Regions from separate parts of the Homo sapiens genome. Here region 2 is linked to region 1. Evidence: fine-mapped expression QTL. Tissue or cell type: whole blood. Region 1 holds a variant in brackets; the other region holds the start of a gene. All regions are shown on one strand. Distances are from middle to middle.

What was found. PIP is the estimated chance that this variant, and not a neighbour inherited with it, causes the effect.
Region 2: it holds the start of NOP14-AS1, and the variant in region 1 is fine-mapped to the expression of NOP14-AS1 in whole blood (INTERVAL, PIP above 0.99).

Annotation. Positions count from the first base shown.
Region 1 is chr4:2,903,659-2,909,648 of GRCh38, forward strand. ADD1 (adducin 1) reads left to right here. Exons shown (of 16, transcript NM_001354761.2): 10 at 1,106-1,450; 11 at 4,085-4,186; 12 at 4,857-4,946; 13 at 5,681-5,773. Among named protein-coding and RNA genes, the nearest start is that of SLC75A1, 28 kb to the right of the region's middle. The variant C/CA (reference allele first, on the strand shown) is at 2,735.
Region 2 is chr4:2,932,565-2,938,038 of GRCh38, forward strand. NOP14-AS1 (NOP14 antisense RNA 1) reads left to right here and starts at 2,982. Exons shown (of 4, transcript NR_015453.2): 1 at 2,982-5,474. It overlaps SLC75A1 (solute carrier family 75 member 1), which reads right to left and starts at 2,261. Exons shown (of 13, transcript NM_001146069.2): 1 at 2,205-2,261; 2 at 1,189-1,380; 3 at 1,003-1,099; 4 at 542-645; 5 at 36-194. The coding sequence starts at 1,359. It overlaps NOP14 (NOP14 nucleolar protein), which reads right to left. Exons shown (of 18, transcript NM_001291978.2): 18 at 5,372-5,474. RefSeq lists enhancers at 502-731, 752-881, 974-1,841, 3,099-4,298, 4,101-4,340 and 1 more and silencers at 1,682-1,901, 2,131-2,440, 2,601-2,710.

The DNA.
Region 1 (5,990 bases):
CCTTTTGTGAATTCCGCTACTTAGAAGCAAGTCAGAGATCTCACCTGTGCTCAAGGTGGGAGGGGATTACAGGAGCTGGGGGCCTGGGGCCACTGTGAAGTCTGTCTGTCACACTTACCAAGTGTGGCCAGGAGAGATGCAGAGGACACCGTCCATGCCCTTAGAGATGCTGTCTGTGGGAGGACTCTGCAGATGAGTTGGTCCAGTAGAGGCATGAAGTAAGTGGGGCTGTCTTTTACCACAGAGCACATGGTCATGAGGCAGAGCTGGAGGTGAATTTGAATGTTGTTGTATTCAGACGTAAAGTAATTTTGCTGAGAACCAGTTGTCATGAGGTATACTTACTTACCTTACTTACCTAAAGATTATCACAGTATTTAAACTGTAACTTAAGAGGTAAAAGTCTATTAAGTATGTTGATGAATATAACCTGCACAGTGGCTGGCAGCAAGTAAACCCTGTTTGGGTGTTCAACTTTAATTTTTTGTTGAAATATGTAAGCAGGAGAGTGCACCTACCGCAAGTGTTCAGTTTGTTCATTTTTAAAAACTGAACCCCCTGTATAACCAGCAGTCAATAAGAGCAACGGTAGCAGCACCTCAGAACACCCCCAGCACCTCCTTCAGTTCACTTGTCCCATCCCAGGGGTGACAACTGTCCTGTCTCCCAGGACAACCAAAACAAAGGTTGTTTTGCATCTTCTGCACTTTTAATGAATGGTATTACATGGTGTATGTTCTTTGCAGGTTGGTCTCTTTCACTCAGCGTTGCCTTCAGGAGAGTCATCCACGTGGTTGGTTTAGAGCACATTGTGTCACTATAAGCCTTCTTATGAAGACACTAGACTATCCATCTCCTATATGGATGGACTTTTGGGTTGTTTCCAATTGTGGTTTACGAGGAGTAGGGTTGCTGTCCACATTTTAGTACCTGGTTTTTGGTGAACACATTTGCTTCTGTGGGGTGTAAAATTAGGAGTGGAATTACTGAGTCATAGGGTATGCATGTGTTCAACTTTTGTGGATGTTTCCACATGATTTTCCAAAGTGAAACCCTGTTTTGAGATCTGGAATATTGACTGTCTTTCACTCTCCTTGGACCCTAGGGCTACAGAACTGGCTACCCTTATCGATACCCTGCTCTGAGAGAGAAGTCTAAAAAATACAGCGATGTGGAGGTTCCTGCTAGTGTCACAGGTTACTCCTTTGCTAGTGACGGTGATTCGGGCACTTGCTCCCCACTCAGACACAGTTTTCAGAAGCAGCAGCGGGAGAAGACAAGATGGCTGAACTCTGGCCGGGGCGACGAAGCTTCCGAGGAAGGGCAGAATGGAAGCAGTCCCAAGTCGAAGACTAAGGTGTGGACGAACATTACACACGATCACGTGAAACCCTTGCTGCAGTCTCTCTCGTCCGGTGTCTGCGTGCCAAGCTGTATTACCAACTGCTTGGTCTGTGCCTACCTTACTGTTCATAGTTAGATGACGTAGAGCAAGTTGGGTAGCTGGGGCTTCGGAGGCTTTGGGAATCCAGCCTTTCTGACCCAGGTGTAAAGCGAACCTTCCTTATTCACTTTCTTGTAGTCTGAACCTAAGTCCACTGAATGCATTACTAAAATTCGGATAATACTATCTGCTTGAAACTGCTTAAGATGTAATGTAACTCCGCAGTAGTTCCAGTATATCTCCGTATATAGCAAAAATATACAATAATTTACATGTATTAACCTACAAATAGGAGCTCTTCTTATTTAATTCAAATTATATTCAGGGACTCTTAATACTTCATGCACAAAAAGACACTTCAGTCCTAAACCTGTATTTTAGTGTTGTGAACTCCAGTGGTTTCAAGTCACTAAAGTTTCTTAAGTCTTCAGTGTTTTCTTAAGCAGTTTTCCCTTGTGGCTCCCTGGCGTGTTCTCTGCTGACTCTTGTCCCCTGCCCTTAGTGTTATTCCCCTGCTTTCTATCCCAAAGCCTCCGAATGCACACCCCCAGCTGCCCTCTGCATGGACTGTTGCATGTGAGTAGACGGCCATAGTGGCGAGTCACCTTCTGACTCCTGTTGGGTGCGGCATGACCCAAGTGCAGCGCAGGCCATCTGCAGGCACCAGCGACAGACGCTGCAAGGGGTGCTTCGTTTCAGCGTTAATGCCGCTCAAGTTATCGTTTGTCCTGAGAGGTGCTCCCATGTCGTGGTGCTGAGACCTCCTCTGAAGATGGGTCTTTATTCCTCCTGTAACCTACCTCTAACAGTCCACCCAGCTCTGCTTTAAACTGTATGTAGAAGAGGCCCATTTCCAGAAGCCCCTGGAATGGAGGAGACAGGGGCTGAAGCAGACTCATCTGTGCATGACTAGTTCATTAGGAGTTCAGTTGAAATTAGATTAGATGCTCCTAAAACCATGGGCAACCAAATACATAAAGTGGGGCTTTCTTTTCCCCTTGTAACAGTGTTTTACTTTATAGATTTATTTAAAGAAAAAAAGTTTTATCTTCCCCAGGTGGTCCTGGTGTTTTCCTGACGCAGTTGGTGAGAAGCCTCCGTGCTCCTGAGCGGCCGCGTCACCTGGGCAGGGACCCTGTGTGGCCATGGGGCTCTGAGCATGGGAGTGCGTCTCTCCTCTTCTTTCCTGCCCTCCTTGTCTTCTTTCCCCCCTTCTTCCTGTCTCCCCTTTTCTTTCATTTGTTTATTTTTTACTTGTTTCACTTGTTAAAGGAAGTGGGCGTTATAAAA[C/CA]AAAAAAAAAAAACCCCAAAACACCTTTCTGCGGCTGATGTGAAGCACAGTGCTGAATTGCCATGAGGAAGTTTTCCAAAGCGTTTAGGCAGCAGCGCGAGCTTTATTTACCATTAGCTTGCAAAACAACTAAGTCACTTTAGGCCTAGTAGTCAATGTGTACATCCAAGGGGAGGCCTTGCTCCGCATTTATATTTGTTTCTTACTGTTCTGGAGTGACAGAGTCCATGCAGTGCTCCCAGGTTGGTATCTTTTCATTTATAATGATTGCTGTTACTTTTTCAAATGTGTTCAAGTTTCTGAGGTTGCTGTTTGAAATGCTTTGACTAAAAATTATTTTTAATAAAACGCTGGAGTTGTTTTTATCTGAGAAGATAACCATCAGTGAGTACCCAGAGCTCCATGCCCATTCCACACTCTCCTCGCAGTGGCTCAGCATTTGCTGGTTTTGTTGCTTTTTTTAAAGTCGTATGGTTTATGGCTATCTTATTGCCTCTCGAAAGTATTCTGAAAGGCATAACATTTGCTCTCGAAGATGGGCTTGTTTTAATGTTCAGTGCCTACTCATGCCTTAGAATTTGATTAAAAATCTCAGATTTGATTGGAGATCCAAAAAAAAATTATGGGTGGAAGGCTCAGCATGCTGACGAGATGCACTGATACTAAAACAGCCTTTAAATATTAAGGACTCATGAAGCGCTTCAAGTTTGTTTGGGATATTTTTGTAGCACTCAAAAATATTAAGTTATATAAAATATTCGACATCACCAAACTCTTCTTCCAGGTAGCTACCGTGTAAGTGTCCATACAGTAATGTTCTTGGGTTGAAAGTTACGCAGACAGTGCATTCTGATGCTGTCATTTACTTTAATGCAAAACTTTGGTGATGCCCACTCTTGCCTCACGGTGCAGGCTCCTCCCTAACCCTGGGTAGCAGCATCACATTGCTTTTCATGACCCTGTCATCTCATGCTTCCAGTTGGCTTTGGTGTTGGATGATTTTCAGAGCAGTGAACCAATGGTCTCTGAGGGGCCTCCCCTGCTGGTCCCAGGGTTATGGGGCTCAGCTCTGTCGTCAGCCTACCTTATGACCCAGATTCAGCTGGGCTTTCCAGATGGTGGTTTTCCATCAGTCATGACTTTGACTTCCAGCATTAACTGGTCTTTATGTGGCTGCATCCTGCTCCCATGGCGACTCTGCTGAGTGACCCAGATTAGATGTGGTCATTGGTTCAGTCCTCTCTGTGATGTTCAGTGCATGACCAGATGTGAGATAAACTGAATAGATTGGATGCTATGTCACTTATTGTTGTCATAATTCTGACTTTTCAACTGTTCTTGATATTACAGTGGACTAAAGAGGATGGACATAGAACTTCCACCTCTGCTGTCCCTAACCTGTTTGTTCCATTGAACACTAACCCAAAAGAGGTCCAGGAGATGAGGAACAAGGTGCGTCCTGCGTCGGCACTCAGCGGGGGCTTGGGTGTGGGATTGGAAGGGATGCCAGCTGCTTTGGGGGGAGCGGGTGCTTGCTTCTAGCAGAGGGCATCTGCTGTTGTTGCCACTGTTGCAGTGAAGCCATCTCTTCACACCGCTGCTGTTCTACCACCAGTGTGAAGTATGAGCAGCAGACATTTTTTGGGCCCTATTGATTCTTGAACTGATGTTTGCTCACGATGTTTGCTCACCGGTCAGAATTGGAAGCTGCAAAACCTGTTCTTAGCAAGAGCAGACTGCTGTCCCTTTCAGGGTTCGTTCAAAGACTTGTGAGTGGCATTTGGTGTATCAGAGCAGGAGCCCTGCCAGTGCTCACATCACTAGACGATGGACATGCAGCGAGTGTTTCCCCCAAGTTAATGACAGTGAGAGATAGGTGTCCTGCCCAAGCATCTGGAAGATGTGGGGAGCTGGGAATAGTCTCCATCCCTGCAGACCCACGCCCCACTAAGCAGGCATGGCGGTCACTCAGAACACATGGGGCCATCCTGCCTGCGTGGGGCAGTGGGAGAGCTGAAATGTAGCTTCCATGTGGCTGGGGCCCAAGTGCACAAGCAGCAGGGCTCCCAGGCAGCATGGCTGCTCAGGACTGTTGATGTGTGCCTCTCCTTCCCACCCTCAGATCCGAGAGCAGAATTTACAGGACATTAAGACGGCTGGCCCTCAGTCCCAGGTTTTGTGTGGTGTAGTGATGGACAGGAGCCTCGTCCAGGTGAGAGCCCAGAGTGTCTCTGACTTTAGTGGGTGGTGGCTGTGTGACCGCCTGCTCCAAAGTTATTCTGAAATTGAGAGAGTGACTTTATGAGGTAAGTATTCTAGGCAACCAGTTACCTTTGTTAAAACCTTCATGATGAGAAACGGTTCAGGCACTTTTCGTTGAGTTCTAGAAGGAGCGAGCATGCTGAGGGCTGTGTCCACCCCTCTGGTCATGCCCCTTGTAATGCATGCATATGTGAGGGTGGCACATACACCACCAGCTTTGGGGCTCAGATTCGGCCCGGGTTCAGCAGCGTTCTGTGTAAGGCGCTAGGAGAGGGTGGGTTTAGGGACTCTTGTTCTGGTACATATTGCTGTCTGCAACAAAGTGCTGCTTGGGTTGCAGAGGGGTGGGTGCCTGTAAGTGTGGTGCACATTTACACACATTTCTACAAAATGACTCTACCTTGTGGCACATTGAAGATAATTGTGTAAGTAGTTATCTCTGAAAACTAATATGCCACCTAATGCTTTAACACCTGACTCTGCAGGGGTAGACGATTGTTGGATTTGTCCAGCCGTGGTCCTGGTTTCGTGTTCAGTGTCTGCACGTCCTGCCATCATCACTGCCACACTTACTGTTGACAGCTGTCCCTGCTGCATGCTCTTAGCCAGCTCCATCCTGTGCTCTCAGCTGATATTTCACAGGCTGGGCCTGGTGTGCTCTGGTGACTCAGTTTACTGTTTCAGGATGCACCTCTCTCTGACTGTACGGAAACTATCGAAGGGCTCGAGCTTACAGAGCAGACCTTTAGTCCCGCTAAATCTCTCTCTTTTAGAAAGGTACTCACTGCCCTGTCCTCACTACCTGTCTATGCGCCTTGCTCCCCTCCCCTCCCCCCTCCCCGTCTCCTCTCTTCAGGCATTGTCTTAGTTACTGAAGTAGCTTCAAATGGATCTTTAACCTGTTTGTGAGATTGTACAGAAGGTTCTGTTCTACCTACTTGATTCTTTAATTAAAACATTTGCTATGAGGTGTGATAACAATTTCCAGCATTCG
Region 2 (5,474 bases), 29 kb after region 1:
CACCAGGACCCCAAAGGCCCAGCCTGTGCACTTACCATGCCTTGACTGCGGGCCAGAGGCGAGCCCAGGTCAGCAACGATGGCCGTGGAGAGGCTGACGTTCCCTTTGCTGATGCCCCCAATCAGCCTGGAGGCCAGGAAGGCCGCAAAGCTCCGAGAGGTGGCCCAGACTGCATATGAGGTGGCCACACCCATCTGCCCAGGGGCAGGGGCCAAGAGGCAGGGGCGGTCGCTTAAGGCCAGGAGTGGCTCAGAGTAGGGCTTGGCAACCCAGACAACACCCCTCAACCCTGCCCTATTTCGAAGCATCTGAGGGCCACTTGCGTTCTCAGTGCCTTCCTAGGGGCCAGGAGCAGCTCCTTGAAAGCCTGGCTCTGGAACAGGAGCCACTGGTCCCCCGAGAACCCCCTCCAGGATGCGATGAGGGCCAACCAGTGGCCATGAGGGGCCCACAGCCACCTCCCTCTCCCCACCTAACCCCATGGGGCTACTGGCTGGGTGGGAGGAGGCTTCCCCATGGGCACCCAGGCCCAGGAACATACCAGGCACAGCAGCATCACCGGGCGCCTCCCCAAGCAGTCAGAGGTGGCCCCAGTGAGTGGCGCACACAGAAACTGCAGGACAGAGAATGCCGAGCCAATGAGACCTGAGAGACAGATGTCACCATCATGGGGCTGCCTGGCACCATGAGCTGTGGTCTTGGGGCCCTCAAGGCCAATGTCCAGCCCCGTCCTGAGGGTCCAGTCATGCTGGGCCCTACACTCACAGGCCATGGCCCTTGAGCCGAGGGGGCCCCAATGGAGAGATGAGGAAGGATCTGAACGTGACACGCGGAGGCAAGGGATCATGCCCAGAAGCCAGGACATGTGGGCAAGGGCACCAGACATGCCAGCCCAGGGAGTGGGAAGGCAAGGACCGAGAATTGGGGAGGGGCCTGGGCTGGACCACGTCCACCAAACATAGGACCGTAGAGAGCCCGCCAAGGGCACAGAGCCAGCCATACCTCCGAACAGGACACTGTTGTACCTCTTCTCCACTGGCATCCCGATGGCGGTGGCAAACCAGTCCACCCCGCCCTGCCAGGAGCCATAGAGGGGGTCCTAGGGGATGAGGAATCACGATAAGGGCTGGGGAGGTCTGATGGGCCTGGGGGGCAGGGGGCACTGTGGGCCGCAGGGCAAGGACTCACGTGGGCACGGCCGTGGCTCTCCAACAGCCCGGGCAGCAGGGGCAGCAGCAGCGTGAAGGCCAGGAGGTCCAGCAGGAGGCCGAGAAAGACAACGGTGACCACGCGGCGCTCCGGCGGCTGCTGGTGGATGGGTGGGCGCGGGGTGCAGCCTCCACCCCCTCCCCATCCCATGGTGGGCTGCTCTGACCTGGCCTGGGTGGGGTGCGGCGGGTCGGGTTAGCGGGGAAGCCGAGTCCTCCGGGGCCTGGCATACCCCCACACCCGACAGCCGGCGAGCACCCTAAAGGGGCTGATGGCAGGGGCTCTGGCCTACGGACGCAGGGGCCGTTCTGGCCTGCGCGATGCCCCCGCCCCGAACCCAGGCAGCAGGAAACGCAGGCTTCGGGGATTGCACAAAAAATAGCCGCAAAGGCAACGGTCCTGAGAGACCAGGGTGAGCACATCGCGGACCTGGCCCCACCCCACCCCACGGCCGCGCCTCCCACGCCCTCGTAACAGCGAGAGAAAACTTGAAGCCGCGGGGAACCCGGATCCCGATCCCGATCCCGATCCCGATCCCAACCCCAACCCCAGCCCCGGCCCGCGCCCCGCGATTCCGGCCCCTGGCCCGGACTCGGTCTCCCTGGCGGGGGCCATGGGGTGCACACCGGACGCAGGAGCACCCCCAACCCCGCGCGCCTCCCACTCCGCCATCCCGCGTGCGTCCCGGTCCCGCCCCCACCCCGCGCGCCCCCGGTCCCGCCCCCCACCCTGCGCGTCCCCGGTCCCGTCCCCCACCCTGCGCGCCCTCTAACCCCCACGCCGCGCGCCTCCCACCGCCCCCACCCCGCGCGCCCCTGGTCCAGCCCCACACCCCGCGCGCCCCCTACTCCCCTACCCTGCGCACCTCTCACCCGCCCCACCCCCGCGTACCCCGGGTCCCGTCTCCTCCCCCACCCCGCGCGTCCCCTGTCCCACCCCCAACCCGAGCGCCCCCTACGCCCCCCACCCCGGGCGCCCCCGGTCCCGCCCCGCACCTGCCGCGGCTGCGCGCTCGGGACGGACGGTCGCACAGACGCGGAACAGGGCACCAGGCACGCCGCCAGGGGCGGGACGGCCACGCCCGGCCACGCCACGCCCCGGAAGTGACGTACATCTCTGCACGTTCTCTTCCGGCCGGAGTCAGTGGCGGGGTTCTCGCCGGTCCTGCGGGTCGCTGCTTGGCTGTGGGTTAGCAGCACCCTGAGCGGAGCGGAAGAGCTGCCCGCCGCCGCGTAACCCCGAGGCCGAGACTCCTGGCCTGGCCTCCTTGGGCCCACGACGCCTGCCCCGCGGAGCGGACCCATGGGCCTGAGGTTTGTGTGCGGGGCCTCAGGCGAGCGCTGGCGCAGCCTGTCCCCCATCGTCTGCGCCCTGCGGGCCTGGCCCTCCCCGTGGAAGGACCGCGGGCTTCGGGGCCCCACGCTGGGGGGCTGACTCCTGCCACACACACAGCGGTGGCCGCGGGCCTGGGGCGGCAGCACAGCCATTCTGCTCGGGCTGCGTGAGCTGACCCCGCTCTCTGTGCACCTACTTTTGCTGCGTTTGGTGCTGAGCCTGAAGTCCCAGGACAGGCGGCTGAGGGGGAAAGATGGTGTGAATTGGGTGGGCAGAGACAACTGAAAGCCACAGGACCCGGTTGGCACCTTTTTGGCCGCCTGCGCCTTTGCCTGCAGCCCCGCTCCCTGGGTCACCCGAAGGAGGAGCTGGCGCTCTTTCCGGGCGCAGAAGCACCCGACCCACGCTGGAGGAAACGGTCCCTCTGGGCAGGAGAAGCTTTGGGCCTGGCTGGAGCACACTCACGGAACCACGCCAACGCCTGGCCTGTAGCCAGCTCCCACCTCCCCTCCCACCTTCTAAAATGCTTGCGGATCTCACGTGGCCGACCCTAACCAGATACACATGGGGAAAGGAATCAGGTGGCACACATACCGCCTTTACTCCATAGAGAACTTCCAATTGTGGGTAAGAACAAAGCCCCACCTCTTCCTAATAGATGCAGTTTTCCACCTGCAGCCAAAAAGACAACCTGTTATTAGCTTTTTTCCCAGAGGACAGGCATCTCTATGAAACTGCCATTGCAAAATTTGCCGACAGTGAGATAACCAGCTCCATTTTGCTTCTAACCTCCATGCCCTCCTTGTTTACTGCTGCACGCAGGTTGAACTGTGGGAGGAACTTAGTTTAAAACAAAGATGATAACAGCCCTTTCCCAAAGGAAACCTTTCCTGGGGATTAGCCTGCTTTTGTGGGACCAACAGATTAGCCACAAGATTAGAAACTACGGTTGAAGAGTCACGCAGCGGGAGGCTACAGGATTCTGACCCTCCCCAAACTGCTCCTGGCGATAACATCACCATCGTAAAGCCTAAGATCAGCACTTGGTGGGTCACCTGGCACCACCCAGGCTCATCTGATGTTGTGGCACCCAGGAACTGACTCAGTGCGAAAACAGCTTCGACTCCCTGTGATTTCATCTCTGACCTGACCAATGGGTACTTCTGACTCACTGGCTGCCCCCCACCCACCAGCTTATCTTTAAAAACTCCAAACCCCAGATGCTCAGGGAGACCGAGTAATAATAAAACTCCAGTCTCCCACACAGCTAGCTCTGCGTGAATTACCTTTTCTCTGTTGCAAATGCCCTTTCTTGATAAATTGGCTGTCTAGGTAACAGGGAAGGTGAACCCACTGGGCAGTTACACTTTTATCCACCCTTCCAGCTGGATCACGCGCCCTCTTCAATGACATGACACGCAGCTAGAGTGTATGAGCTTGCTGCCGGCACCTTCCGTCCTGGATCGCATAGCAAGGCCTCAATGGACAGCCAGGTGCCTGGTCCGGTCCCACTTTTTTTTCTGTCCTGTTCTCGTTTCCTCTTTGCTTGGCCAAAGAGGGTTGGGCCAGGGTCCTGAGTGCAAAGGCTTGGCTTGGTGAATTAAAGTGGCAGTAGCCGTGTGGCAGAGAAAATTTGTAGATGGGTGAAATCCTGGGCCTACACAGTGACAAAGTGTATATAGACAGCCAGCCTAGTTGGTGGATGTGACAACCCCAGACTCTTCTAGATTTGTGGATCCGTGCACCTGCCAGACCTGTCTCTGAGCCATCTGGGGAGGCTGGGTAAGATTTCCCCCGTCAGGGCCTGAGCCTCATCTCCAAGCTGCTGGCTTCAGCCCAGCTGCCACCAGCGCTGTCTCTGTCTTGCGCTTTCCAGAGAGAGACTGACTCATTTTGAGCTCCAGGCCTACCAGGCAGCCCAACCGCGGCAGTAACTGCCTCTCACACTGAGGATGGCTCATGCTCTGGTCCAGCCATGGCTTGAACACCTCCCAACAAGAACAAAGCCAGACTCATTCTCCCTAGCATCTTCTTCCTTGCTCAAAGATCCCACACCCCGTTAGAAGCTGGAACTGGGTCCTTGTCACCTTCCTCACCTCCCCAGTCGTAGTCTGGTTAATCCTTACATCTCACCACGGTCACCGTGGCTAGATGTGACCTCCGCGATGCTTCAGGCACGTACCAGGGCAGCCTGGGCAGGGCTGGTCACTGTGATCTCATGAGGTGTGAACTTGACCCCGGCCTTCTTTCCTGGGATGCCGGCTAAGGACACAAGTTCAGTGTTTGCCCTGGCTTGTAGCCCAGCGGGGGCTCCGTCATCCCCTGGGGAATGCCTCGGCCTGCAAGACCGCATACCGCATTGGAACAGGGAAACCACCTACTTCAGCACCTCCCTCAGCAAGGTGGCAGGTCCCAACAAGCCTTGCACCACGAGGAAGTGGCAGTGGCATTCGGGATATGGCTCCCTGGCCAGCTTGTGAAGTTCAAGGGGCTCGTTACTTCTTACAGCTCACAGTCCCTCCCGGGTCCAGCACACCTGAGGGCTGACCTCCCTCTTGATTAGTGCAGGGGAAAAGCACTTTAAAAAGCTGTGTCATGCGTAACTTGCACATCTTCTGATTCTGACCTGAAACTGCATCCCAGGTCGGCACAGACGCAACCCAGTCTCCTCCCACCTCCGAGAGTGCAGTGTCCTGAATGGAGAACCCCAGCACCCAGAAGCATCCACTGAAGGACGTAAGTAGGACAAGGCCAACTGTGGCTGTTCCAGCAGAGGGACTGTGGGTGATGTTTCCCTTCTCTGATTTCTAAAATATCTGCAAACTTGTTTCATTTATAATTGAAAATATAATTTGCATAACAACAGTAAATTCTACACATGAAGGCAAACGTCCGTGGTTGACAGAAATTACACTGGCCAGAATCCCCAG